Homo sapiens: one gene and its partners. The protein of the gene in region 1 purifies or fractionates together with the protein of each later gene. This does not show direct contact. Each region holds a gene or a part of one and is shown in the gene's direction. Other genes may lie near its edges.

Region 1 (3,500 bases):
ATTGGTTGCCATCCTATTACATACACACAATGTGTCCTCTTTAAAGAAATATTCATCACACTAAAATACCTGAGAAAGTCATTTTTTATCCCAAATCATTGTTCTTCAAATGAGTGTATATTAAATGAACTGCATTTACCTTTATACATATAAACAAAACATGGCTTAAAACAGATTTTTTCATGATTCAGTTTACAAATGCCATGAGTTTTCTTTTTGTGAAATCCACAAAAAGATGAGTTCTGAAACTATTACATGCTGAGGAATATTTAAGATGTACAACAGAGCTCCATGCTTGTATTTTCCTATGTGCATCAAAGTAATTGTCGAGGATTCTCACAAAATATCAAGAGTGATCAAGCTATCCCAGAAATTCACTATGTATACGTAGTTTCCTTTCATTCTGTTTTCTTCTATCATTGTTTTTGTTTTTTTACTACTTACCACTCATTCTCCCTTCTCTCACTCTAAGGGACTTTTATAACTAAACTTTTAGTTATAAATTTTTCTGACTGTGGTATAATTCAGTGAAATTTTATTTAACTGTGACCTTGCCTTTGCAGATTAACCCAACTCCTACAGATAGATTTTAATGCTTTTTTCCCCCTCAGCAGTTCTCATTGCCCCAACAAGATATATACGTGAGACAAAGGAGAAATTTCTTCTGCAGTCAGCCTTCAGACCTCTCTGATCTTTTACGAGCATATGTCAAGTTGTAGCTCCAGTTAGTTATTTGTTGCCATTGCCTATTAGTCATTATTTCCTATGGTTGTTTATTCTTATATTTGAATGACTTCCACAGAGATAATGTATATTCATTGAAATTAACATTTAAAAGATGTTAAGATAGCCTGTCAAAGTGATGGTAGCAAGGTGGCCAAACTGTAATTGAAAATAGTGGCATGTTTATATTTTCCTGACAAAATAAGTCATTTATTCCTAAATCAGCTGATATTTGGTTATATCATTATTCCTTATTTAATAGCTTTGCAGAAATAAAAACACTAATCATAATTCATTTGGTTTTATATTACTATGTTTCAAATTGAAGGGGTTTTTTTTTTTCTTAATCTCTTTTAATTAAGAGTTAGTAGCATGCAACTGTTGTCCCAGCTACTCAGGAGGCTTAGGCAGAAAGATCCCTTAAGCCCAGGAGTTTGATTTCAGTCTGGGCACCATAGCGGGACTCCATCTCTAAAATTAAATAAAAATTTTTAAAAATAAGAATCACACAGAAAAGAAAAGAAAAAAAGGTAACACCACAAACCCTGTCTCTTTAAGGGGCATTCTAGATCATGTTGGTGTTTGAGGGTAGACACCCATTTTAAAACCAGAAACTCCCTTTGTTTTTTTCAGAGCAGCAATCTTCCACTTTCTCAACTGTACGAATGCTGTCTAGTGAGTAGATAGATTATCTGCACACAGTTTGAATTTTAGGTGAATTCCTTCCTAACTTCTCCTCATGCTTCTGCTTTCTGTTTAATGTGTGCTGTGGAACTGAGTATTACTGTAAACCAAACCTCATTAGAAATGTGACTGTGCTTGAAGACTCAAAGATACTGTGAGGCATTTCACATAGATGCAATTTCAGATATTTGTCATAGATTCTTTCCAGTGCTTACAACTGAAGTTAACTATATCTGTCATTTTTCTTTGTCTTAAAACTTATTTTTTGGTTACCCAGAACTTCCCAGTATTTCTTTCACTATATTATTAAGGGCTGGAAATTTTTAACTGAAATTCATACACAGATTTGGAGATTGATTAATAAGCATGTGTGGCTGGACGTGGTGGCTCACACCTGTAATCCCAGTGCTTTGGGAGGCCCCCCAAAAAATGTGGGGAAAAATAAATCCTAGTAAGCTAATAAGAGCTTTTGTGAAAATTTGGGTTTAAAAGCAGCTTTTGTGACATCTTCAGATACATGAAGAGAAGCATTTCTAATTCTGATTAAAAAAAGACTGGCAATAAATATAACAGTTATAGAAGTATAATTACAGAAAGATGAGAGGCTGTTACATGAGTTTAAAACAATTTTAAAAGGTACACTAAAAATTTTGAAAACAAAAGGATGTTTTAGAACTATGGGTTTTCTGTTCTTGTTGTTCCAGTTTACCTTCTGAAGAACTTCTTTTAAAATGTTTCTAGAGGAAGTCTATTGGCAATGAATTTCTTTACTTTTCCTTGACTTGAAAATGCCTTCATTCATTCTGTCTAGATATAGAATTTTAAAACTTTTTTTTCTCCATCAGTGTCTTTTTCTTTTCCATCTGGACCACCAATGACACGTTAGATCTATAGGTCTCCAAGGTTCTATAACATGCATTTTAATTGCTGTCTTTTTCCCTTCTTCAAATTGGATAATTTCTATCAATCTTCAAATTCACTGATTTTTTCCCTGTCATCTCCATTCTGCTATTCAACCCGGAAGTTTCAGTTATTATAATTTTCAATTGAAAATTTTTCATTTGGTGCTTTTTTATGGTTTCTCTGCTGAGAATTTCTGTCTTTTGATTCATTCCATTGTGTTTTCTGTCACCGTTGGAACATGGTTATAATTGCTGCTTTAAAGTTTTGCTTGATAGTTTGAGCATCTGGATTATCTCAGAGGTGGCTTGTCTTTTCTCCTGAGAGTTGTTCAATTTTCCTGATTCTTTGTATGTTGAGTAATTTGAGATTGCACCTTAGATGTTGTGCATGCTATGTTGTGTAAACTGTGTGTCTTGTTAAAATCTTAAGGATGTTGATGTTTGTTGTTAGCAGTCAAGCCCAGTTAAAATCAGACCATAAGTTCTGTCTTAGTGTCCGAGCAGACAGTTGACCAAGTCTCAGTCACATTCTCTAAGCCTTTGTTATGCTGTTTTGAGGCTGTCTTACACATACCTAGTTTACGGATTAGTCTGAGACTTTTACAGATTTTTCCAATCTCACGTCAGTTCTCTAGGCCTTTACTTGTTGGTTTCGGTTTTTTTTCCATGCATGTTTTATCCAGAGGTTAATCCTGAGACTTGCAGCAGTGATTCAAATTTTAGTTCAATGCTCTAAGCTTTTGCTGTGTGGGTTTGGATCTCACCTGAAAATGCGTAATTTGGGGGTTAGGCTGAGACTTCTGCATTTCCTACATACAGAATTAGATCTTTTCTAGCTCTCTCCTCTCCATATTTGTCCCACATGTTCCATGCTTTTCAGAGTTAAAAATTATTAGTTCCATTCAAGTTCAGTTAGTCAATGCTTTAATAAAGTATACTGACTATGTAATAAAGCTAGCCATATTTGAGACTGAAGACTAAAAATTTTAATTTGGCTAAAATTTATTGAGAACCTACTATATAACATTGTATTGGGTAAGGGGCATAGAAGTGAGTTATACATATGCCTTGCTCTTAAATAAATTGCAGTATAAGGCAAACTGTAATATACTATCGTAACTAACATAACAGAATGTATAATAAACACATTTGCTCATCAAATATTGTATTGTATTGTATCCTATGGGCCAG
Region 2 (3,500 bases), on another chromosome or scaffold:
AACATGTGGGCACTCACTCTTCCAAGATTGTTTGGCTAGCATAATGCTGACTTTTTTGGCTTTTAATAATTGCTTATGAATAGTATAAACTGTAAAATAGAAAGCTATTTGATTTGACAATAGCAAAATATTCACAATTTGAATGAAATAGGTATCTCTTCACTTGGGCTTTTAAAAAATATATAAATACTGTATTTCATTGAACACATTAAATCCAAAAGCAGGCCATTACCTGCAGCTGTCTAATGGCCAGATTTGATACATACTACAGACAATTACAGTTTCTTTGTTCTTACTGTACTGTAAAATAAGTTCTTCCACATACTTGCCTGGGAAGTTTTGAAAAATAAAGCCTAACTTGAAAATTATGAATCAAGATTTCTTTCAATATTAAAAACAGTAATAGCGCTCTTGGTTTTATTTTATAGTTAATAAAAATTTAGATGAATGAAGCTTTTCCTCTCCCTTTTAGGACAAGTCTAGATTATATTTTCTGTGCTAAATTGAAGGTTCTTTCTCCAATCATTAGAATGAATGAACATGCATTAAGCCTCTGTTAAAAGCTACTAAGGAGTAGTGAAGTCAGTGTTAAAGTTTATTTCTTCTTCTTGCTCATATCACTAAAAATAAATTGCCCAAAAGATGTATAGCAGGAAGGAAAAGAAAAATCAAATAATATTGAAAAGTACATATGAGAATAATCAGTCAAAATAAGCAAAGTTTTCCTTGCCTTAAAAAAAGAATCTACCATCTGAAATGCCTACTTGTTTAAGGAACAAAGAGCCAGGTCTCCCTCTTTGTAGATCTCACTTATAGATAGTATTTGGAGAGTGGGTGAGTGAGCAAGAACCCCGAATCCAAACGTGGGCAGCAGACCTCTCTCTGGCTGCTCCTTTGCTGATCAGGGCCCAGGTAAAACTTTTTTTTTGTATACTTTCTATAACTTAGTAGGTTTCTTAGGAGAATAATAGATGCATGGGAATAATAACATTTACATTTTAAGTTCCCTTATCTGTTAGGCCATGATTGTGCCAAAATGATTAAGGTGAGTTGAGATTGAGAGTACAACTGAATCTGTATGTCTCTCTTGGTTTGTGATTAATCTGGGTGATACTTGATTGCTGAATATTTCTGTAGAGATTTAGAGTATCTTATACATGCCTGGCATAAATACAGATTGGAGGCAGGATGTTTTTAGTTGGTTTCTCTAATTTTATTACCTGCCTAAACATTTTAAGAAATATATTCTTTTGCTTCTATCCCTTTACCCCCAAATGATTCAGGTGTAGGAGCTGCACGATCTGGGAACCTCACGTTTATGGTGGGAGGAGTTGAAGATGAATTTGCTGCTGCCCAAGAGTTGCTGGGGTGCATGGGCTCCAACGTGGTGTACTGTGGAGCTGTTGGGACTGGGCAGGTAAGATTTTTACATTAATGACCTTGACTTGATGATGTAAAATTGACTAATGTTCCTTTCTCTTTCCTGACCATATTTTTATTCTTCTTTCTTCAACCTATGGATTCTTTGCTCAGATTTTAAAACATTTATTTGGAATAAATTAGTTTTGCATCATTCCTGGTGGGCTTAAGCAGACATCAGCCAATTTACTTATTTAAAAAACTTCCATTATTGGCCAGACGTGATGGCTCATGCCTGTAATCCCAACACTTTGGGAGGCTGAGACAGGAGGATCACTCAAGCCCAGGAGTTTGACACCAGCCAGGGCAACATAGTAAGACCCCATCTCTACAAAGAACAAAAAAATTAGTCGAGTGTGGTGACACACACTTATAGTCACAGCTACTTAGGAGGCTGAGGTGGGGGGATCACCTGAGCCCAGGGGTGGGGGATTGAGGCTGCAGTGAGCCATGATAGAGCCACTGCAGTCAGCCTGGGTGATAGAGCAAGAACCTATCTCAAAAAAAAAAAAAAAAAAAAAAAAAACGGGAAAAAAAATTCATTATTAGGATCTTGACATGTCTGTCATCCCAGCAACTAGTGAAATCATCCTTAAAACTGCTCTTATTCGAAGTGCTTGTTTCTGAGTTGCTATTTTCCTCCATCTAATTTTGTAATTACAGTTGACCCTTGAACAACACAGATTTGAACTCCATGGGCCCACTTATACATCTATTTTTTTTCCATAGATATATTGAAAATTTTTTTGAAGATTTGTGACAGTTTGAAAAAACAGATGAACCACATGGCCTAGAAATATCAAAAACATTAAGAAAAAGTTAGATATGTCGTGAACGCATAAAATATATGTAGATAGATACTAGTTTATAAATATGCACAAATCTGTTATAAAGAGTTAAAATTTATCAAAGTTTACAAATATTTATAGACCATACATGGCACCATTTACAGTTGAGAGAAATGTAAAGAAATGTAAAGATGCATTAAATCATAATGGCATAAAATTAACTCTAGTAATACTGTACTACTGTAATAATTTTGTGGCCACCTGTTGCTATTGCAGTGAACTCAAGTGTTACAAGTATTGAGCATAAAATGTCATGTGACACTAATCATCTTTGTGTGAGTGGTTCATCTCTTTAGTAAATTGTGTATCATAGTAAAAATTGATCTCTTGGAATTCTCTTGTATTTTTTTATCATGTTTAGTGCAATACCATAAACCTTGAATGACACCATGGGACCCATACAAAGTGCCACTAGTGATGCTGGAAGTGCTCCTAAGAAGCTGAGAAAAGTCATGACATTACAAGAAAAAGTTGAATTGCCTGATACATACCATGGATTGAGGTCTGCGGCTGCGTTTGCCCTCCATTTCAAGATAAACAAATCCAATGTAAGGACCATTGTAAACAAAGAAAAGAATAGTCATGAACCCATCACTGCAGCTACTCCAGCAGGCTTGCACTTTTTGCAGAACATCTTTTTATCTCACATTGAAAATGCAGCTTTTATGTAGATGCAGGATTGCTGTAGAAAGGCATACTTACATCTAATATGATTCAAGAAAAATATGACAACTTAAAGCAAAAAGAAAGTGAAGGATCTAAAGCTGGAGAATTTAATGCCAGCAAAGGATGGTTTGATAATTTTAGGAAGAGGTTTGCTTAAAAAATGTCAAGAAATAGGCGAAGTAGCTTCTGCCAACCAAGAGACAGCAGACAGTTCCCAGGCGCCATTAAGAAAAAATCATTGAAGAGAAAGTATATCTGCCTGAATGAGTTTTTAATGCAGACAGAAGTGCCCTATTACGGAGAAAAAAAAAAAAAAAAGGATGCTCGAAGGACATTTATTAGGAAGAGAAGCAAGCAGCACCAGGATTTAAGGCAGGAAAGGATAGGCTAACTCTACTGTTTTGTACAAATGCAGTTGGGTTGAAAATCAGGACTGCCCTTATCTATAAAGTTGCTAACTTCTGAGGCTTTAAGTGAAAAGATAAATACCAGCTGCCTGTCTTTTGGTTGTACAGCAAGAAGGCCTGGACGATGAGAACCCTGTTTCTGGATTGTTTCCATCAATGG
Region 3 (3,500 bases), on another chromosome or scaffold:
TTCCTTACTTTCTGGCAGTATAAGCTGCTCCAGGCTTATCTTGCATGTATGTTTCCTGCTCCAGCCCTGGAACAGCCATTTCTTCAAGCATCTCTGTTCTTATTGTGGAATAGCATTGGAAACCAAGATCTGGGTGCCGGGTATGCTCATTGCTACCAGGTTGCCATTGCCTTTAAGTTCTCTTCACTGACAGAACAAGAAAATATATGTTTGGATAGTAACCCATGCATACACATACACCTGTAAATATTTCTGTATGGATCCATCTGTATCTCTGTTAAGCTAAACGTGAGTTCATAGTGATGTTGGAAACATGATCTTAGCTTCTGGAAAAATTATACTAAAATTCTAGAAGTCTTGAAAAATAAAATAGCAGTCTACCTCCTGCCTTAAACTTCTGTTTTATTTCTCTGACTGCGACAGATCTTCTGGATGTCCTTTCCAGCTTTAAGATTCCAAGGTCACTTGTCAGTTTGGAAGCCAGCTCACTGGGTTAATTTTGTGAACAATGGATGGGCACCTGTGATGCTAATGCTGCTTAGTAAGCAGGAGTCAGGCGTTTGGCCCTATGACCTAGAATATTCTCCCAATGATGCACTGACCCCAACTGGAGGAGTTGGCTTTGAGGGAGTCAGATTACTCAGCCAGCATATGGACTTTTGCAAGCATCTGGGAATTCTAACTTGTGTTCTTGGAAAACTTTTGTCTAAATTCTAGGAAGAAGAGCGCCTAAATAAACTCCGACTGGAAAGCGAAGGCTCTCCTGAAAGTAAGTTGTGCTGCTGCCATGGTAGTTACCAGTTAACTTGTGCTAGTGTTGGAAGTATGGATAATTGTGATGTGGCAGGAGAGCTAATGATTTCATCCCGGTGAGCTGTGTGGGTGAGTTTATGAAAAAGCTTTTAGGTCCAGTGCTTAAGGTCTGCACTACCCACGTCAGAATCCTTACCTTTAATGTGTCCTTTGTGTTTTGGTTGTTATTTCATGAGTACACCAAGGCTAGTGTAGCAGAATGAAAGAACTCCTGGACTGGCCTCATGGCAGATGGCAACCAAATCCTGCAGAGACTTGTGGAAATGATTGCATGGATCCAAGGCTACACTCCTTCAGCCTGGTGTTTTTCTCCCAGCTGAAATCTCAAAGGCTGTATGATACATAAGTGTGGTTGTCAGCCTGAAAGATGGAGAGTATTCTGTGTAGTCCTGCTATTCATTAACCTTTAACAAATCAATTTCTGTTTCCGTCTAACCACTTTAAGCAGGAAGCTCTGTAAGTGTATTATCTTCTGGGTGATGTAGTTAGATTAAATTCAGCAGCTATCTGTTAAAGTCATGCTGTGTGGCAAGCATTGTGCTGGGCCCTTGACTAAGAGCCAGAGGGATCCATCGTAGCGCCTATACTCAAAAGGGCTTACATTCTTAGTGAGGGAACTGCAGGTGTATGTAAAACTACCTCTGAAAAGCAGAATGAAATAAGTCCTTCTTACTTGTTCTAAGTTGAAATTTTTCAAATTTTAGTGGTACTTATCTAGCATGCCATAAATAAGGGAGGGGAAAGTTTTGGAGCAGTAGTTTTCAAACTGTGTTCCATGGTGCCCCAGGGGGTTCCCAGAGATGCTTTGGAGGAGTAGATCACACAAACAGGTCTACCTCAGTCAGAGCAGCTCTCTTTTGAGTGTTATGTGTTGGCATTCCGAATAAGGTTTCTTTTGAGAAGGAATTTTAAAAAATATTTGAATAGCGACTACCTTAGGGGAATATTCTTTCAGGAAAGCCGAGGAGGGGAGAGGTTCAGTGGAGGCAAAGAATAACAACATAAAAAAGCCACTTTGAGATTTAAATTAATGTTTTGGTGTCTTAAAGGGATAAACTTCAAAAATAGATAAAAATTCTAATATATGGATTTTTTGGGTGTTAGGTAAAGCTTTAACTGTTTTACCTAAATTCATAAAGTTTTCTGAACAAGGAAGTTCTTTATGGTGGGGAAGTGTAATAGATTTTTGTAGTTTTGAAGAAATAACTTTTAATTAGCTAAATGTTGCTAGAAGTCTGACATTTTTTGGAGTCTTAGGATAAGGCTGTGTTGTTTTTTTTTTTTTGAGATGGGGTCTTGCTATGCTGTCCAGGCTGATCTTAAGATACTGGGCTCAAGTGATCCTTCTACCTCAGCCTCCCAAGTAGCTGGGATTACAGGCATATGCCACTGTGCCTGGCTTAGGCTGCTTTTGATTGACCACATTATTAAATGTGATTATTTGAGGACCAACCAGATGTCTTTGCAGAATATCTGTAGCCTAGGAATAAATATGTAGCAGCAAAATCTGAACACCATAGATCTCCTCTTAAGAACTGTCCTTTTCTTTACCCTACTCCTTTGACTCAACAATGACTCTGTCAAAGCCTCTTGTTTCTTCCTTTACTCTGTAATTGGCTGTATCTTCATGAATCTTAGGCTGCAGATAAAATTAATGTCCCTTATTTTCCTGCATGTTGGTTTGAAATTGTCCTGCTTTGGTTATGTCCTCAGTCTGCCCATCTTTCAAAGCCCAGATCAGGCCAAGTATGATGGCTCATGCCTCTAATCCCAGCACTTTGGGAGACTGAGGCGGGAGGATCTTTTAGGCCAGGAGTTCGAGATCAGACTGGGCAACGTAGCAAGACTGTGTTTCTACAAAACATAATGGAATATAAAATTAGCAAGGTGTGGTGGCACAGACCTGTAGAACTAACTACTTGGGCGGTGAGGTGGGAGGATGGGTTGACTCCAGGAGGTCAGGGCTGCAGAGAGCTATGGTCCCACCACTGCATTCTAACCTGGGAACAGAGTGAGACCCTATCTCAAAAAAAAAAAAAAAAAAGCCCGGATTAGATACCAGCTTTATCCATGTAGACTAGCTTGATGCCTACTTCTCCAGCCTAATGTCGTTTTTTCACCTTGAAAGTTTCACAAGACATTACTTGTTACTCCCCACCTGGTATTACAGTTTTTAGATTGTAAGCTCTGAGGGCAGCCTTGAACTACCTTTGTATCCCAGTAGTTCTTCTCACAGTACCTTGCACATTGTAGGTATTCAGTTAATGCTTGGTTGAGTGAATATATAACCAAATATCAGGGTTGTTTTTTTCATTTACTGTATCTGTCTCTTTGAGCTAGTTTGACCTCAGTGACCTTAAAGAAATTCCAGAAAAGAAGAAACTATGGATTATATTAAGATGACTGGAGGGCCAGGCACGGTGGCTCATGCCTGTAATCCCAGCACTTTGGGAGGCCAAGGTGGGCAGATCACCTGAGGTTAGGAGTTTAAGACCACCCTGGCCAACATGATGAAACCCTGTCTCTGCTAAAATACAAAAATTAGCCGGGCGTGGTGGCGGAAGCCTGTAATCTCAGCTACTCGGGAGGCTGAGGCAGGAGAATTGCTTGAACCTGGGAGGTGGAGCGTGCAGTGAGCCGAGATTGTGCCACTGCACTCCAGCCTGGGTGACAGAGCAAGACTCTGT
Region 4 (4,213 bases), on another chromosome or scaffold:
CACAAAGCAACATATCCAGGAAGGACAAAGGGCTTGAACCTGTCCTACCCTAAACAGGAAGCATTTCAGGAGAGGACTGAGCAGGAGATATAGACTGTTGTGACTGTGGCTTTACTACATCAAAGGCTGCAGTGGATCTCAATAATGCAGAATGTTTCCTTTTGTAACTCATAGTGAATATGACTGGACAAGGAAATTATTTTGTAATTTGTTTCCTGAAAGATAAAGGAGTTAGAACATAGGATCTTTCATTGATTCTACAGAATCTTAAGACTCCTTCAGGGATGGCAGTCATTCCTACCGTGCTGAACATCATGTTGTCACGGTCAGAATCAGAACTAAATTGATTAAGGGTCTGAAACAGTTTGGCAACTCTTGGGCACTTATGCTGATAAGAAAAGTGATGAGACAGGGTAATGAAAAGAGGCTGCAAGAAATGACCATTCGTGCATTCAGCCAACATTTAGGCCACCCTCCTGTATTCCAGGCACTGTACATGGCACTGAGTATGCAAAGCAAAAGGAGTCATGGTCTACTGGCGGGAGCCTTCTCAGTGGAGAAAAGATCAACAAGAAAAGTGCCTGCTGGAGACCTCTCCTAGGGCATAAACCAATATAGAGGTGGGGCAGCTACGTCAGCCTGGGGTGTCCTTAGGCAGAACAGAAAGTGAGAATCAGAGCAGTATCTCATTTCTGAACACCTGGATTGTAGCTTTCCCTTGACTGTCAAAGGAGGTGGTTTTAAAAATCAAGCCAAACAGGTTTCCATCTTTTAGGAAGACCCTGGAACGTGCCAGTTGATTCTGACCATTTCTCATGAACAGAAACACCTAGGAAGGGAGAACTGGTGAGTTTCAAGAGGAGGAAGTCCCTCAAAAGGGGCTGTGTTTCGTAAACGGCGCCCCAAAAGGGCTGAACTACTTCGATCTGGAGGAAAAAGACTCAGGCACTGAGGGAAGGGGAGGGTGCACGTCTGGAGTAATTTTAAGGCCTTTTCCGTGTTATGTGATGTGGCAATAAGGAAAGATTTGTTCGTTTTATTATTTTTTTAATTTTTAAAGATTTTCTTTTCCCCCCTTTTCCCCCTCCCAGCCACTCCGGTTTGGGTTTGCCACAAGACTATAATTCCTTTAGAAAGTGGAGTCGAATTCATAAAAGTGATGGGGGGAGGGGCGCGGAGAGGGAAGGCTGGGAGCCCCAGGGAGTCTTCACGACCGCTCAGCTCCCGGCGCGAGTGGAGGTCGGTGTGGGGAGAAGCGGCTCCCGCCCGGGATGGCTAATACTCTGCGAGCCCCGGCAGCCCGCGGCCGGCGGGGTGACTAGGCGGCGGGCGCGGAGGGTCTGCGGCGGGCGGGCGGCGCTGCAGCAGCCTGGGCACGGCTGCCGCCGCCCGCGGGCGCGAGTGTGCGCGGGTGTGGAAGGCCGGCGTGCGAGCCGTGAGGGGTGTGCGCGCGTGAGCCGGAGCGGGGCTCGCCCCTCGCCGGCGCCCGCCGCCCAGCCGGTGATTGCTCTCTGGCTGTCCCCGGCACCTCGGCCCCCACGGCCGTTGGTCCGGGCGGGTGAGGGAGAAAGTGAGACTTGGTGTCATCACCATCCATTGTCAGAAGGGGAGGAAATTGGAATCCAGCAGCGGCGAGCAGCAGCTGGGCGGTCACATCTGGGAATGCAAAGCCGACCTCCCCCTCCTCCTCCTCCTCCCCCTCCTCCTCCTCCTCTTCTCTCACCCAGGATCACTTCCGAAACCACTTCGCCTTCAGCCCCTGCCTCGGCCAGAGGTTTCATTTTTAACTGAATATTTACGAAAGCTGGAAGCGTGCGAGGGGGGTGGGGTGGGGTGGAAATAGCGGCTGCTTCTTTTCCAGGGATTTATTTAATGGGGATGTGTTCAAGGCAAGAGCGAATTCAGAAGGATATCGACGTCGTGATCCAGAAGTCCAGAGCTGAGAAGGACTGCCTGTTTGCAGGTGAGTTCTTGCTTTTCCAGAACCTCGGACCCAGCGCCCCCTTCCCAGTTTTCTGACCGCGACGTCTGTGGCTGGGGGTGGGGTGGAGGGTTGCACGTCCCCATTCTGGGGTTCATTTGGCAACAGCTGCTGCAACGAGCGCGGGAGCCAAAAGGGGGAGGGGGCGCCAGCCTCTCCCCTTCCCCTCCCCCACCGCCAAGTCTGAGGCAGCCACCAGCTTTGAGGGCAGAGCCCGCGTGGCCGGAGCGGGGGTCTAGGCGAAGGGGCAGTGCGTGGTATTTCCAGCCCCGCGTAGTGCCCGAAGCCTCCAAGCACGCTTCCTGGGTTCCAGCAGCGGCGGCAGAGCGGGGTTGGTTTGCGCAATGGGCTGAGCGGCGGCGGCCGGGAATGGAGCCTGCTGCGCTGCGCTGCGCTTGTAAGCTGCGCCCGGCGCCGAGGACCCCCGGGGGGCAGCGCTCGGCCCATCTCCGGCCCCTTCGGCTCCCTCTAGTCCCCTCCGACTGGCAAAGAGAAGGGATTCCTCGGATTCCCAAGGCACCCAGCGCCCCTGCCTGGGGGTCGCCTTTCGTCCATTTTGCTCCCCCGGGATTTTGCTTTCGCTACCGCGAGCCCGGCTGAGGCTGCTTCCGGCCTCCCCTATCGGGAAATTCCCGCTGTTGCCATGGCACCCGGCACTTGTTGCGGGGGGCGGCCTCCCGCTGCACCCAGTCGGGGGCGCGCCGCATCCCCTCGGACGCGGCGCAGAGGGACCTCGCCGCCCTCTAGCCCTTGCCTTCTGCCCGGCCAGGCCTCCCCTGACACCACCGAATGTGGGGCTCAAGTCCTGATCGGGGTTAAAACAAATCCACTCCAGGGGTAGCTTTTGACGGGACTTTCTGTTTCAGATTTCAGATACTCTGACTCCACCTTTACTTTTACCTACGTTGGCGGCCCCAGAAGGTATTTATGTGTATAGAGTTGCTTCATTTCCTGTTCACACTCTTGTGTTTCCTTTGTTCTTAGCGTGTTCCGTGTTCGGGTATTTTGGTTGCTTGTTTGTTTGATTATTGTGGCTTTTCTTTACCTGCTACCCAAGCCTGACGTCCCTCGGTTTTAAATAGCAGGAGGAGGGGAATCAATGTTTGATTCAGGTGTTTCGAGGACCACGCCACAGGCAATGAGCAGAACTCTTCATGTTGAAACTGTTCTGCTACAGTACTAGATTGCTCTCAGGCGATTTGGGGTTGATACAGGCACGCCGGTGCAAAACTGGAATACTGGATATGAAGTGAAATGTATAAAAGACATAAAATGTCACAAAATAGTTTGATCAGAAGTGTTGATTTTCCTGGTGAGTTGGGGCTGCGTGTTTCCATGTTTTCTGAAGGTTTACATAAACATGCAGCCTGCCAATTCTCTGTACATTTTTTTTTCAATGAGTGGTATTTCGGTTTTCACGTATAGAAATTGGAGACTTATATGTAGCTGGAGTGGATGACTTCTTTCTTTTGGGGGAAGAATGAGAGATGCACATTTCGTTAGTAAATTGTGAACAACTTGAAACAAACCCAAATCCAATTTTGAATTTAGGAAGTAGAGTTAAAATGAAAGGTAGCCATTCAAATACTATGCCTTGCTACCTTCACTTGTTGAGTTAGGATTTTCTTCCTTTTAGCCCTTTAGGGACACAGTAGTTTAAAAGAGCAGTAGCCACATATGAGAAGTACCAGATTTAGCTTAGAGGGAATTCCTTAGACCAGCCCTGCTGTTAGGACTTGACATTCAATATTGTTTGATCACATTCCAAAATATATCTTAGCTAATGGAAACATTTATAAACATATAAATTGCAAAAGAAGCTTTCTTGTGTACATACATTTTTAAAAGCTTGAAATTGATGTGAACTTTTAAAAACACGTAGGATCTGTATTACATTATACATCTCAAAACATTTAAAGTGAATATCATTCCAGTATATGCAATATACCTAAGCCCCAGAATTAGCACATTGATTTACTAGTTGAAAATATAACAGTGAATCACCAAACTTAAGTGTATACTTTTTGGGAGAGAATGAAATTACAGTATTTCTTAATTTACTGTAATGTCATCTTTGTAATTATGAATTAATAATTCAATGAGAGGAGACTTGGTTGATTAAATTAACGCTGGTCCTACACATTATATCTAAAGGATCTTCGTATATGACTAATATCCTCTTGGATTATTTTAACAGTTAAAATATACAAAGTGGCCCATTAAAAACAGAGT
Region 5 (4,193 bases), on another chromosome or scaffold:
CAAAAACAAAAAACAAAAAACCCTAGTATTATTAGAAAAAAATTGAACCCATAGGCCCCCCGCAAAAGAATCTCAGGAATCCTCAGGGCCCAGTGATCGTACTTTGAAAAACTTCTGCTCTAGACTTATGTGAAAGAAATAAACCCCTCTTTGTTTAAGACACTTAATTAGGCTTTTAAATACAAGATAAGTTGCATCTCTAGTTCTCAAATAATTTTTGGCAGATTTGCCAAAAATTCAGTCATTATACAGAGATAGAGACTCTTGAATTTTGTAGTAGTTTACTTCAAATTACTACAGTATTTCAAAAACAATATTTATTGTTGATTTAAATAAACATTGTTATTTATTTTTTGAGTCAGAGTCTTGTTCTGTCTCCCAGGCTGGAATGCAGTGGCGGGATCTTGGCTCACTGCAACCTCCACCTTCTGGGTTCAAGCAATTCTCGTGCCTCAGCCTCCTGAGTTGCTGGGATTACAGGCCTGCACCGCTATGCCCAGCTAAGTTTTGTATTTTTAGTAGAGATGGGATTTTGCCATGTTGGCCAGTCTGGTCTGAAACTCTTGGCCTCAAGTAATCCGCCTGCCTCGGCCTCCCAAAGTGCTGGGATTATAGGTGTTAGCCACTGTGCCTGGCCAAACATTGTTGACTTAAATCAACAATGTTTGTTGCTGATTTCCATTAAAGGCTAGAAATTACTGGCCAGGTGCGGTGGCTCACACCTGTAATCCCAGCACTTTGGGAGGCTGAGGCAGGTGGATCACAAGGTCAGGAGATTGAGACTATCCTGGCTAACACAGTGAAACCTCATCTTTACTAAAAATACAAAAAATTAGCTGGGCGTGGTGGCGGGTGCCTGTAGTCCCAGCTACTAGGGAGGCTGAGGCAGGAGAATGGTGTGAACCCAGGAGGTAGAGCAAAAAAAAAAAAAGGCTCAAAATTACTGCAATGTCCACCATTAAGTTTCTGATAAATAAATAAATTTTAAAAACCTTCATACATACTGGTCTAGATTAAACCACACCACAAAACAGAACTCTATCTATATCAGAAAACATTGCTTAATTTTAGGGAAAATGATATACGTTTGTATACTAAAGTGCAATAATCCTCAGGATAGAGCAAGTGAAGAGATTATGGCACAGAACCATTCTTTGATTCTGTTTGCTTCTCAAATATTTCAAATACTTGCTTTATAAATATATAATATTTCCTTTTGAAACATGTCTCATATTCTTAGTATCTCTGTGCTGTGTTCAAAAGTAGGGTAGCATGGCCTTCTCAGGCAGTTCTGCTTGGAGATGAGCACAGCACGCTCTCTTGTACCTCTCCTCCCTGTTCCCAACTGTTACAAACACAGTGAATATTTATTTGGTCCACAACTGGGGACAGTAGAAAGGACACCAGCTTGGAATCAGTTCGGACCTGTGTCTGCTGCACAGCTGAATCCCTGGGAAAGTAAGTTATTTAATCTTTCTGAGTCTGAATTTTTTCACCTGGCATATGGCAATGAAAATACATACATCTCAGATCTACTATGAGGACTAACAGAGGTAAATAAAGCACATAAACCCTTAGCACAATGCTAGCTGTATAATAGATGCTTCATAAATGAGAATTATCATTATTTTAGTTCAGTGTCTAAAGAACTTGTTTAGGTTTTTTAAGGTCTGCTTTCACAATTCTCTTTCAATGGGTAAATTCAAATGCCTAAGCCTCCTCTGGTATGCTACTCTGGAAAGTTAAGTGCTTGTGAGTGTCTTGTTTTGTTTTTTTTTTAACCATTTTTTAAAGCAAAATTTTCTACTTTCCTTTCTTACGACCATGGAGTCATTTAAAGAAGAAGAATGCTCTTATCCTCTTGATTTCCAAAGGGAGTTTAACTTTAAGATGCTTTTTGTGTGCTTATGGTTAAATGTATTACTCTACATTATAAGTTGAATATTACATATTATTCATCATGTAGAAGCCCATCTAGCAAGACAGCCACAGTTTAAAACAGATGAATAGTGTGAACTAAAAACTAAAGCTTGCAAAAATACCCATATTATGCCCCCTAATTATCTAAATTATATAGTAAGAATATAGCCTTTGTAAGAAATTTTTAAAAATGTTTATTTTTTTAAATTTCCAGCTCTTTTAGTGTAGCATGGCAGAAAGAACAATGGCTATGCCCACACAAATACCTGCTGATGGAGATACAGTTAAGTATATCTTTCAAATATAACTCTGCATTTTGTACTTCAATAAGATTATATAGCCTAAAAATATTGACTTGGAAAACTGATGTAGGCATAGAAGATAAAGTCTTGTTTGTTATGTTTGGGCATGAATTAGCTTTTATACTAATTGGAGTTTTAAGTATCAATGGTGATTTAGATAATTGTTACATGTTTTTTGAGTCCGATGACCTTGTTAGCAGTGCAACAGACTATTTCTACTTAACACCAAAGAAATTCAAAGTAAAACTTCTGAATCGCCCAATAAATGAGAAGAACAGTGCTGTTTTGATGGATATATTTGCAGAATGTATGCACTGACAATAAATAATTTTTTAATGAAGTTATTTTAGCAAATGGTTGGATGGCTGCTTGCTGATTGCTTTACTGAGTGTGAGGTTAGAGCAAGTTTTTTTTTTTTTTTTGAGACTGAGTCTGGCTCTGTTGCTCAGGCTGGAGTGCAGTGGCGTGATCTCAGCTCACTGCAACCTCTGCCTCCTGGGTTCAAGTGATTCTCCTGCCTCAGCCTCCCAAGTAGCTGGGATTACAGGCACCTGCCTTCATGCCTGGCTAACTTTTGGATTTTTTTTTAGTAGAAACAGGGTTTCACCATGTGGGCCAGGCTGGTCTCGAACTCCTGACCTCAGGTGATCTACCCGCCTCAGTCTCCCAAAGTATTGGGATTATAGGCATGAGCCACTGCGCCTGGCCTGTCATTGCTTTTCATGAATAACCATCAGAGGAATTTCTCAGGGACTGAAACATTGGCCTATGCTCATTCCATTTTATCTTTGGGCTTTCTTGTTTAACAAATCATGGTTAATACTCCTTTGTTCACATGACTCTAAAACATAAAATTTTAGGATTAGAAGGGATCCCAAAAGCCAATTAGTCAAACATTATGCAAATGCTGATATGCAAATGCTAGCAACAAATCTTTAGCAAGTGTCTTAGTCTGTTTGGGCAGCTATAACAAAATACCTCAGACTTGGTAATTTATATACAATAGAAATGCATTGTTCACAGTTCTAGAGGATGGGAAGTCCAAGATCAAAGCACCAGCAGGTTTGGTGTCAGGTGGGGGCTTACTCTCTGCTTCAAAAATGGCTTCTAGCTGTGTCCTCACATGGCAGGAGAAGCAAACAGTGTCCCTCAAGCTTCTGTTATAAAAGCACTAGTCCTATTCATGTGGGTGGAGCCATATGACCTAATTACCTCTCCAAGGACCCCTCTGTTTTTTAAAAAATTTAAATGATATGTAATATTAATACATATTGATGGGGTACATGTGATATTTTATTATATGCATAGAATACATAATAATCAAGTCAGGGTGCTTCATGTATCTATTACCTGGAATATTTATTATTTCTATGTTTTGGGAACATTTCAAATCCCCTCTTTTAGCTATTTTGAAATATACAATACATTGTTATAAACTATAGTCTCCCTACTCTGCTATAGAACATCAGAACTTATTTCTTCTGCCTAACTGAATGTTTGAACCCACCAGCCAACCTCTGTTCATCCCCCCACTACTCACACACCCTTCCCAGCCTCTGGTAGCTATCATTCTACTCTACCTCTATGAGGTCAACTTTTTAAGCTGATGCATATGAGTGACATATTTGTCTTTCTGTGTCTGACTTACTTCACTTAACATAATGACCTCTAGTTCCATCCATGTTAATGCAAATGACAGGTTTTCATTTTTTTGTGTGGCCAAATTGTATTTTTTTTTTTTTTTGAGATGGAGTTTCACTCTTGTTGCCCAGGCTGGAGTGCAATGGCATGATCTCAGCTCACTGCAACCTCTGCCTCCCAGGTTCAATTGATTCTCCTGCCGCAGCCTCCCAAGTAGCTGGGATTACAGGCATGCGCCACCATGCCTGGATAATTTTGTATTTTTAGTAGAGATGGGGTTTCAACATATTGGCCAGGTTGGTTTCAAACTCCTGACCTCTGGTGATCCAC
Region 6 (3,500 bases), on another chromosome or scaffold:
AATTTTTATATTTTTTTTAGAGATGGGATTTTATCATGTTAGCCAGGCTGGTCTTGAACTCCTGGGCTCAAGGGATCTTCCCACCTTGGCCTGCCTCCCAACATGCTGAGATTACAGGCATGAGCCACTGCACCCAGCCCCGAAGCTTCATTTTCAATGCATTGAGTTTGAGGAGTCTACGAAATGTCTAAAACATTCAAGGGTAGGTGGAAGAAGAGGAATCTATAATGGGCTGGGAAGTGTTAGAGAAATTGGTGGATAACAGAAGGAGTGGTATCAAAGGCATTTCTGGGAGGGAAGGTCACAGAATCATTGCAACAGAGACATCAAGCTGAAGATTATGTATGGATAGATAAGAGTGCATAAAATTATAGTTAAAAAGCTCACTTTCCAAATGCTGATTGGCTAAAGGGAAATTACAAAGTACACAAATTAGTTTAGCTCTCAGTCTTTTAATTTAAGGAAAAGTTTAGGAATGGAGTCAGTTTTTTCAAGTCACTAATAATGGTAAGTCTCATAGTGCCTTTTTCATTCAGATTTTTTGTCTTCTTTTCCCCTCCACAGATTGATCATTCTTAGAAGAGCTGCTGTAACACATAGGGGAAGTGAAAACTAACAGATGAAAGTTTTGTCATGCACTGAAAGAAAAGCATTGTCTGTGAAGTTCTATTTTTAAAAATGTCTGCTTGTAACACCTTTACTGAACATGTTTGGAAACCTGGTGAATGCAAGAATTGCTTTAAACCTAAAAGTTTGCACCAGCTTCCCCCAGACCCTGAGAAGGCACCCATCACCCATGGCAATGTGAAAACTAATGCCAATCACAGTAACAACCACCGCATCAGGAACACGGGCAATTTCCGGCCTCCTGTGGCTAAAAAACCCACTATAGCTGTGAAGCCCACTATGATAGTGGCAGATGGGCAAAGTATATGTGGTGAGCTTAGCATCCAAGAACACTGTGAGAACAAACCTGTCATCATAGGGTGGAACCGAAACAGAGCTGCCTTGAGTCAGAAACCACTTAACAATAATAATGAAGATGATGAAGGAATTAGCCATGTTCCTAAGCCTTATGGCAATAATGATAGTGCAAAGAAGATGTCAGATAACAATAATGGACTAACTGAAGTGTTAAAGGAGATAGCAGGCTTGGATACTGCCCCTCAGATAAGAGGAAATGAAACAAACTCCAGAGAAACATTCTTGGGAAGAATAAATGATTGCTATAAACGATCATTGGAAAGAAAGCTTCCACCAAGTTGCATGATAGGTGGGATAAAGGAAACTCAGGGCAAGCATGTTATTCTGAGTGGGAGCACAGAAGTGATTAGTAATGAAGGGGGCCGGTTCTGTTACCCAGAGTTTTCCAGTGGCGAGGAGAGTGAAGAGGATGTACTTTTCAGTAACATGGAGGAGGAGCACGAGAGTTGGGATGAGAGTGATGAAGAGCTGTTGGCCATGGAGATTCGCATGAGAGGGCAACCTCGCTTTGCCAACTTCAGAGCAAACACATTGTCTCCTGTTCGATTCTTTGTGGACAAAAAATGGAATACCATCCCCCTGCGAAACAAGTCTCTGCAGAGAATCTGTGCTGTGGACTATGATGACAGCTATGATGAAATCCTGAATGGTTATGAGGAAAATTCTGTGGTCTCTTATGGACAAGGAAGCATTCAGAGCATGGTGTCATCTGACTCCACATCACCAGATTCTTCTTTAACAGAAGAATCACGTTCTGAGACAGCCAGTAGTTTATCCCAGAAGATTTGTAATGGGGGATTATCTCCTGGTAACCCAGGAGATTCTAAGGACATGAAGGAAATTGAGCCCAATTATGAAAGTCCCTCTAGTAATAATCAGGATAAAGATTCATCACAGGCTTCCAAAAGCTCAATAAAAGTTCCAGAGACCCACAAAGCAGTCCTTGCTCTCCGATTAGAAGAGAAAGATGGCAAGATTGCTGTACAAACTGAGAAGGAAGAAAGTAAAGCCTCTACAGATGTTGCTGGGCAAGCAGTAACCATAAACCTTGTCCCCACAGAAGAGCAAGCAAAACCTTACCGAGTTGTGAACCTGGAACAGCCATTGTGCAAGCCATATACTGTCGTGGATGTGTCAGCAGCCATGGCCAGTGAGCACCTCGAGGGCCCTGTTAACAGCCCCAAGACAAAAAGCTCATCCTCTACTCCAAACTCTCCAGTTACATCATCTTCATTGACACCAGGACAAATAAGTGCCCATTTCCAAAAATCCAGTGCAATTCGATACCAAGAAGTATGGACTTCTAGCACCAGTCCACGACAAAAGATACCTAAAGTAGAACTAATTACTAGTGGAACTGGACCAAATGTTCCTCCAAGGAAAAACTGTCACAAATCAGCACCTACATCACCCACAGCTACAAACATTTCCTCCAAAACCATCCCTGTTAAGTCACCTAATTTGTCTGAAATTAAATTTAATAGTTATAACAATGCTGGTATGCCACCTTTTCCAATTATCATTCATGACGAGCCAACTTATGCTCGGAGTTCCAAAAATGCTATCAAAGTTCCCATTGTTATCAATCCAAATGCATATGACAATCTAGCTATCTACAAAAGTTTTCTGGGAACAAGTGGAGAACTCTCAGTGAAGGAAAAAACCACAAGTGTAATAAGCCATACTTATGAAGAAATAGAAACAGAAAGCAAAGTGCCTGATAACACCACTAGCAAAACCACTGACTGTCTTCAAACTAAAGGGTTTTCAAACAGCACAGAGCATAAAAGGGGCTCAGTGGCTCAGAAGGTTCAAGAGTTTAACAACTGTCTCAACAGAGGTCAGTCTTCACCACAGAGAAGCTATAGTTCCAGCCACAGCTCCCCAGCAAAGATCCAGAGAGCCACTCAAGAGCCTGTGGCCAAAATAGAAGGCACTCAGGAGTCTCAGATGGTGGGCAGCAGCAGCACCAGAGAGAAAGCAAGCACAGTGCTTTCTCAGATTGTGGCTTCAATCCAACCCCCACAGTCTCCTCCAGAAACACCTCAATCTGGCCCTAAAGCTTGCAGTGTGGAAGAGCTTTATGCCATTCCTCCAGATGCTGATGTTGCTAAGAGCACACCTAAGAGTACGCCAGTCCGGCCCAAATCTCTCTTTACATCTCAGCCTAGTGGTGAGGCTGAAGCACCTCAGACCACAGACAGTCCTACCACCAAAGTACAGAAAGACCCATCCATAAAGCCAGTCACCCCCTCTCCCTCCAAATTAGTGACTAGCCCCCAAAGTGAGCCACCAGCTCCCTTTCCCCCGCCACGCTCTACTTCTTCTCCTTACCATGCAGGTAACCTTTTGCAGAGGCATTTCACCAACTGGACCAAGCCAACCAGCCCTACCAGGTCAACAGAAGCTGAATCAGTTTTGCACTCTGAAGGCAGCAGGCGGGCAGCTGATGCAAAACCTAAGCGCTGGATATCATTTAAAAGCTTCTTCCGCCGTCGGAAAACAGATGAGGAGGA
Region 7 (4,087 bases), on another chromosome or scaffold:
GTGTACAACAGGCAATATCTACATCAACGTTTAATTGTTAATCCCGCGTAAAAGTTTTAACATCGTAGAGTCAATAACACTTGGGAAATAGATAAAAACGTACTGTCCAAAGAAGAGACTAAGAACAAGATAAATAGGGAAGGATAAAAAGTAAAATGTGTTGATTATTTAGGACGAAAGGCACTAAATACAGCCAGAGAGAAACTGTGAGGAAAGCATGTGGCCTCTAGTCTAGAACACTAGCTCAAGAAAACTCACTTCACCGGAAGCCAGAAATGAGCAGAGAGCGGAACCAGTGAAGTGGCCTTTCAGGCCCACGCAGTCAGCGTGTGTGGACGTCCCGAAGAGCTATTCACACATTCAAGGCGTTCTGCTTTGAATAACCAGAATCTCGAGTTCCTGGGCGGCTTGAGCCGCAGACACCTCACCCTTGAGAAGGCGCACCCTAGGGTGGCTTCTGCAGGACTAATGGCCTGAGCAATGCACTTGACCTCACCAGCCCGGGATAAGGTGCGCGCCGCAGAGAAGGGGCAGTGCAAAGGGCAATACGTGCTTAAGAGCTTGGGGAGCGAGGGCCCTCAAGTCAATTACAGGATTTGGGTGCCAGGTCCTGAGGATGCAGCAGGCACAAGACTGACACGATCCTTGCCCTCGTGGTGTGGCTCTACAAATTACTGTGGAAACGCGACTGTCTCGAGCTGAGGAGAGGGCAGAACATCTACATTTCCCCCACCCGGACTCCAGGTTCCTGAAGTCACCTCTCCAGACGCGGGGCGGCGGTGGCCGCAGGGAACCACTCCATGCCCAGCTTGGGCCTCCTCCCGTGACCCCAGGCCCAGGACGGTCCCCTTGGTTCTCACCGAATCCTTTAATGAGCTCGGTGAAGACCCCGGGGTCGCTTTCCATGAGGCACCACTCCCCGGCATTGCCCGTCATGGCCCTGGCCACACACCGCCCCGATCCACCTCTCGCTCTCAGCTGCCCCCCGCACCAGCTGCCGCCGGCCACAGATCTCAGCAAACCCGCCGCCGAGCTCGTCAACCACACGTCACCCCGCCTACTTCCCGACAGCCTCCGGGCGCCGTCACCTGCAGCGCGACTGAGCGCGGGAGGACGCTCTAGCCACCCTAGAGACATCGAAACTCTTCCCAGGCCTTGCAGCACCCGTAGCGGATTCGGAAGGGCTGGGGCCTGAGAAGAAAGGGCGGTGATTCACAGCGCCGAGGAGGCAACATCCGGGATCCTCGCCCCTCTGGGGCGGAGGCGGGGCAAAAGAAGAGGGGCAGGACTCGTTCCCGGGAACCGAACCTGGAATCCCCGGCGGCAGTGGGGCTGTTGCTGTTGCTGTGGCTGTCGCTGCCCGTCAGGCTGCCTTCTTTTGTCGTTTCCCAGCGCTGCGCAGGACTTCTCCTGGCGGCGCTGCGGATCCAGGGGGTCGGCTGCCAGGTACAGGTGAGGACATTGCGGGAGGCCGGCTGGGAGCCTTTTGTGCGGCCCCAGGGACGCGCAAATTCTGACCAGTCCTCCATGTCTCTCACCCGCATCCCAGGGGTTGAGGCTGGGCAAACGCCGCGAAACTATCGCTCTTCCCCGTCCCGCTTCCGCGCCTGTCCACCCTGGGTAACGGAACCAGCATCGCGGTAGGGACATCCTCGCTAGGCCCGGCCGGACCATTCCTCAGGGTGGGCCCTTTCCGAAGCCGGGACCGCTCCTGCTTGTCGGCATCGCTCCCCACAGGCCGACGTCGAGAGGGCCTGCTTTACTCCTCCTCTTTCTCCTCCTTCTCCCGCGGCTTCTGCGCGGAGAGGCGTCGCCCGGGATCTGGGTTTTGGAAGAAGGATCTTTGTGGGAAGACAGGGTGAATTTATCACAGAGGAATAACGAGGGAGAGGAGAAAGGTTTGTCCATGGGGCTGCTAGACTAGTGGAAGGGGATGCGGTGCGTCAAGGGAAAATTAGGTTGAAAACAAATGTCGTGTATTAATCTAAAAACATTTGGAATGGTTCTAAAACTGGATGATGAGTTAAACCAAATATTTACTAAATATTTACTAAATTGCCCTCATTCAGCAGGCTCTTATAGAATACTATAGTGTTAAGATTAAAGTTTTTAAGAGTATATTGAAGTCGTTAAGTGTATATTTACTCCTTAAAAGCTACATATTCCAAGAAAGACCTTTGGCTTCCAGAAAAAAAAAATGTTTTAGTGGGTAAAACTCTGACTCCTTCCTTCTCAAATAGGTGACTTGTGCCCTGGAGTTAGGGAGCCTTGTGCTACAGATTATGTGAAGCCATGAAATAAACGTGGTAAATTTTATTGAGGGAAGCAACAGAGCAGCTTTTGTATTAAAAGGAGCCTGAGTACGCTATGGGGTAGAAGCCAAAATTTGTATGAAGTGTTGGTTTAAAAAAAATTTTTTTTGTAACTTTCTTGAAGTTTATCTCCGGAAACTCTGCCCTCAACTTGGAGACTAGGAGGATTCTGTACAGTATATTTCCTTGAGATACTTTATTGGAAAAGTTTAAGAGGCACAGAGTCCAGAATGATTGGCATCAGAGCCCAAAGTAGTTTGTGGTATTTTTTTTAATCTGTAATATTGCTATGAACTTGAAAATGTTTTCTGTGCAAAATACATCAAAACTAAAATGTACTTGATACCCAACTTAATTAACATGGTACCTATTGTAGAAAGACCAAACTGAAAATTTAGCCTTTGGCACAATCTAGAAGTAAGCAGAGAAGGGGGTTAAGATGCCTTTCATTATGTTAACGTTTAATCCTGAGAGTTTACATAAAAAGCCAGATTTCTGGGTCTTTGAGAAAAATGAGATCTGGCAACTACTAGTTCCATACCACGTGGCAACCAGTTGGCAGCTCCCCTCAGACTAGCATGCTGTCATTTTTGCCACAGTTCCTTCCTCATCAGTTTTTATAGCATCACATTGATCAGTGGATTCAGATACCTGTATCATGGGTAAACAAACCTCTATCATGGGCCCAATTTTCTATTGTTGTTTCTTTACATTTGTCATGCACTCTCATAGATATGTCAGCTTTGACTTCATTTAAAAAGGAATAATCTGCAAATGTGTTTGACTTCTTGAGATGAAAGGCAGCATTTTCAAATAAATTATAAAGAGACTTTGGAAGATATTGAGATGTGTAAATTCAAGAAAAATGTAGGATTCCTTGGAAATAACACATTAGTACTGATAAAAGATACTGTATATGCTGTAGTTCTGATGATTGTGAAACAAGTGCTATTATATAATGTGTGTTACTAGCATTTCCTGATTTTGCATTCTAAATTAAATTTAAAAGTAGAGAAATGGACATTGTATAAAATATCCACAACCAATTTAATATGCGGCCATGCTTGGCCGGGCACCGTGGCTCACGCCTGTAATCCCAGCACTTTGGGAGGCCCAGGCGGGTGGATCACGAGGTCAGGAGTTCAAGACCAGCCTGGCCAACATGGTGAAACCCCGTCTCTACTAAACATACAAAAAATTAGCCGGGTGCGGTGGCAGGCGCCTGTAATCCCAGCTACTCAGGAGGCTGAGGCAGGAGAATCGCTTGAACTCGGAGGGCGGAGGTTACAGTGAGTGGAGATCGCGCCACTACACTCCAGCCTGGGTGACAGAGTGAGAGTCTGTCTCAAAAAAAAAAAAAAAAGTGTCCATGCTTTTAATATTATAGTATTGTAATATTTAACTTCTCAAGAACTTAATTTATAGAGATTTAATACAACATTAGTTGTATGGTGTGTTTTAAGAGCACTAGATAGATAGGTCAGGCCCATCCAAAGAATTAACTATATCTTTTTGTTGTTAATCTGGATTTACAACACTTGATTATCCAGGAATGGATTAACTGATGACCAGGTTCTGACCTCACTCACTGCCCAATTGCCTTCTAAACCACTGATAATGGAGCTTAAGCTTTGAGGCAGGAGATGATGGCAGTTGGAGAAAGAAGAAATTAAGTTGCTGTATATGTCTTGTGGGTATCTCAAATTGCTTTTAAAAGTCAAATATAAAAATTGTAGGGCTAAATATAATTTTTGTGTAATCAATTGTATTGGTGC

The links.
Region 2: the proteins of PRMT3 (region 1) and HIBADH purify together in Homo sapiens (affinity purification with mass spectrometry, with the first as the bait; one large-scale study listed by BioGRID). This does not show direct contact.
Region 3: the proteins of PRMT3 (region 1) and HACD3 purify together in Homo sapiens (affinity purification with mass spectrometry, with the first as the bait; one large-scale study listed by BioGRID). This does not show direct contact.
Region 4: the proteins of PRMT3 (region 1) and PARP8 purify together in Homo sapiens (affinity purification with mass spectrometry; one large-scale study listed by BioGRID and IntAct). This does not show direct contact.
Region 5: the proteins of PRMT3 (region 1) and SEPTIN14 purify together in Homo sapiens (affinity purification with mass spectrometry, with the first as the bait; one large-scale study listed by BioGRID). This does not show direct contact.
Region 6: the proteins of PRMT3 (region 1) and PEAK1 purify together in Homo sapiens (affinity purification with mass spectrometry, with the first as the bait; one large-scale study listed by BioGRID). This does not show direct contact.
Region 7: the proteins of PRMT3 (region 1) and RO60 fractionate together in Homo sapiens (co-fractionation; one large-scale study listed by BioGRID). This does not show direct contact.

What each region holds. Positions count from the first base shown.
Region 1 is NC_000011.10:20,488,716-20,492,215, forward strand, and holds part of PRMT3 (protein arginine N-methyltransferase 3), read left to right. Parts: intron 1-3,500. UniProt on the Homo sapiens protein: Protein-arginine N-methyltransferase that catalyzes both the monomethylation and asymmetric dimethylation of the guanidino nitrogens of arginine residues in target proteins, and therefore falls into the group of type I methyltransferases.
Region 2 is NC_000007.14:27,540,884-27,544,383, reverse strand, and holds part of HIBADH (3-hydroxyisobutyrate dehydrogenase, mitochondrial isoform 1 precursor), read left to right. Parts: intron 1-1,283; coding exon 1,284-1,417; intron 1,418-3,500.
Region 3 is NC_000015.10:65,557,963-65,561,462, forward strand, and holds part of HACD3 (very-long-chain (3R)-3-hydroxyacyl-CoA dehydratase 3), read left to right. Parts: intron 1-717; coding exon 718-769; intron 770-3,500. UniProt on the Homo sapiens protein: Catalyzes the third of the four reactions of the long-chain fatty acids elongation cycle. This endoplasmic reticulum-bound enzymatic process, allows the addition of two carbons to the chain of long- and very long-chain fatty acids/VLCFAs per cycle.
Region 4 is NC_000005.10:50,665,224-50,669,436, forward strand, and holds the start of PARP8 (protein mono-ADP-ribosyltransferase PARP8), read left to right. Parts: upstream 1-1,413; 5' UTR 1,414-1,662; coding exon of another isoform or gene 1,663-1,774; 5' UTR 1,775-1,861; coding exon of another isoform or gene 1,862-1,872; coding exon 1,873-1,963; intron 1,964-2,190; exon of another isoform or gene 2,191-2,350; coding exon of another isoform or gene 2,351-2,378; intron 2,379-2,847; coding exon 2,848-2,902; intron 2,903-4,213. UniProt on the Homo sapiens protein: Mono-ADP-ribosyltransferase that mediates mono-ADP-ribosylation of target proteins.
Region 5 is NC_000007.14:55,859,953-55,864,145, reverse strand, and holds the start of SEPTIN14 (septin-14), read left to right. Parts: upstream 1-1,393; 5' UTR 1,394-1,458; intron 1,459-2,134; 5' UTR 2,135-2,149; coding exon 2,150-2,203; intron 2,204-4,193. UniProt on the Homo sapiens protein: Filament-forming cytoskeletal GTPase. Involved in the migration of cortical neurons and the formation of neuron leading processes during embryonic development.
Region 6 is NC_000015.10:77,179,105-77,182,604, reverse strand, and holds part of PEAK1 (inactive tyrosine-protein kinase PEAK1), read left to right. Parts: exon of another isoform or gene 1-202; intron 203-564; 5' UTR 565-678; coding exon 679-3,500. UniProt on the Homo sapiens protein: Probable catalytically inactive kinase. Scaffolding protein that regulates the cytoskeleton to control cell spreading and migration by modulating focal adhesion dynamics. Acts as a scaffold for mediating EGFR signaling.
Region 7 is NC_000001.11:193,058,325-193,062,411, forward strand, and holds the start of RO60 (RNA-binding protein RO60), read left to right. Parts: upstream 1-1,287; 5' UTR 1,288-1,452; exon of another isoform or gene 1,453-1,538; coding exon of another isoform or gene 1,539-1,674; exon of another isoform or gene 1,675-4,002; intron 4,003-4,087. Other genes in the region: UCHL5 (ubiquitin carboxyl-terminal hydrolase isozyme L5), read right to left, coding at 1,539-1,674. UniProt on the Homo sapiens protein: RNA-binding protein that binds to misfolded non-coding RNAs, pre-5S rRNA, and several small cytoplasmic RNA molecules known as Y RNAs.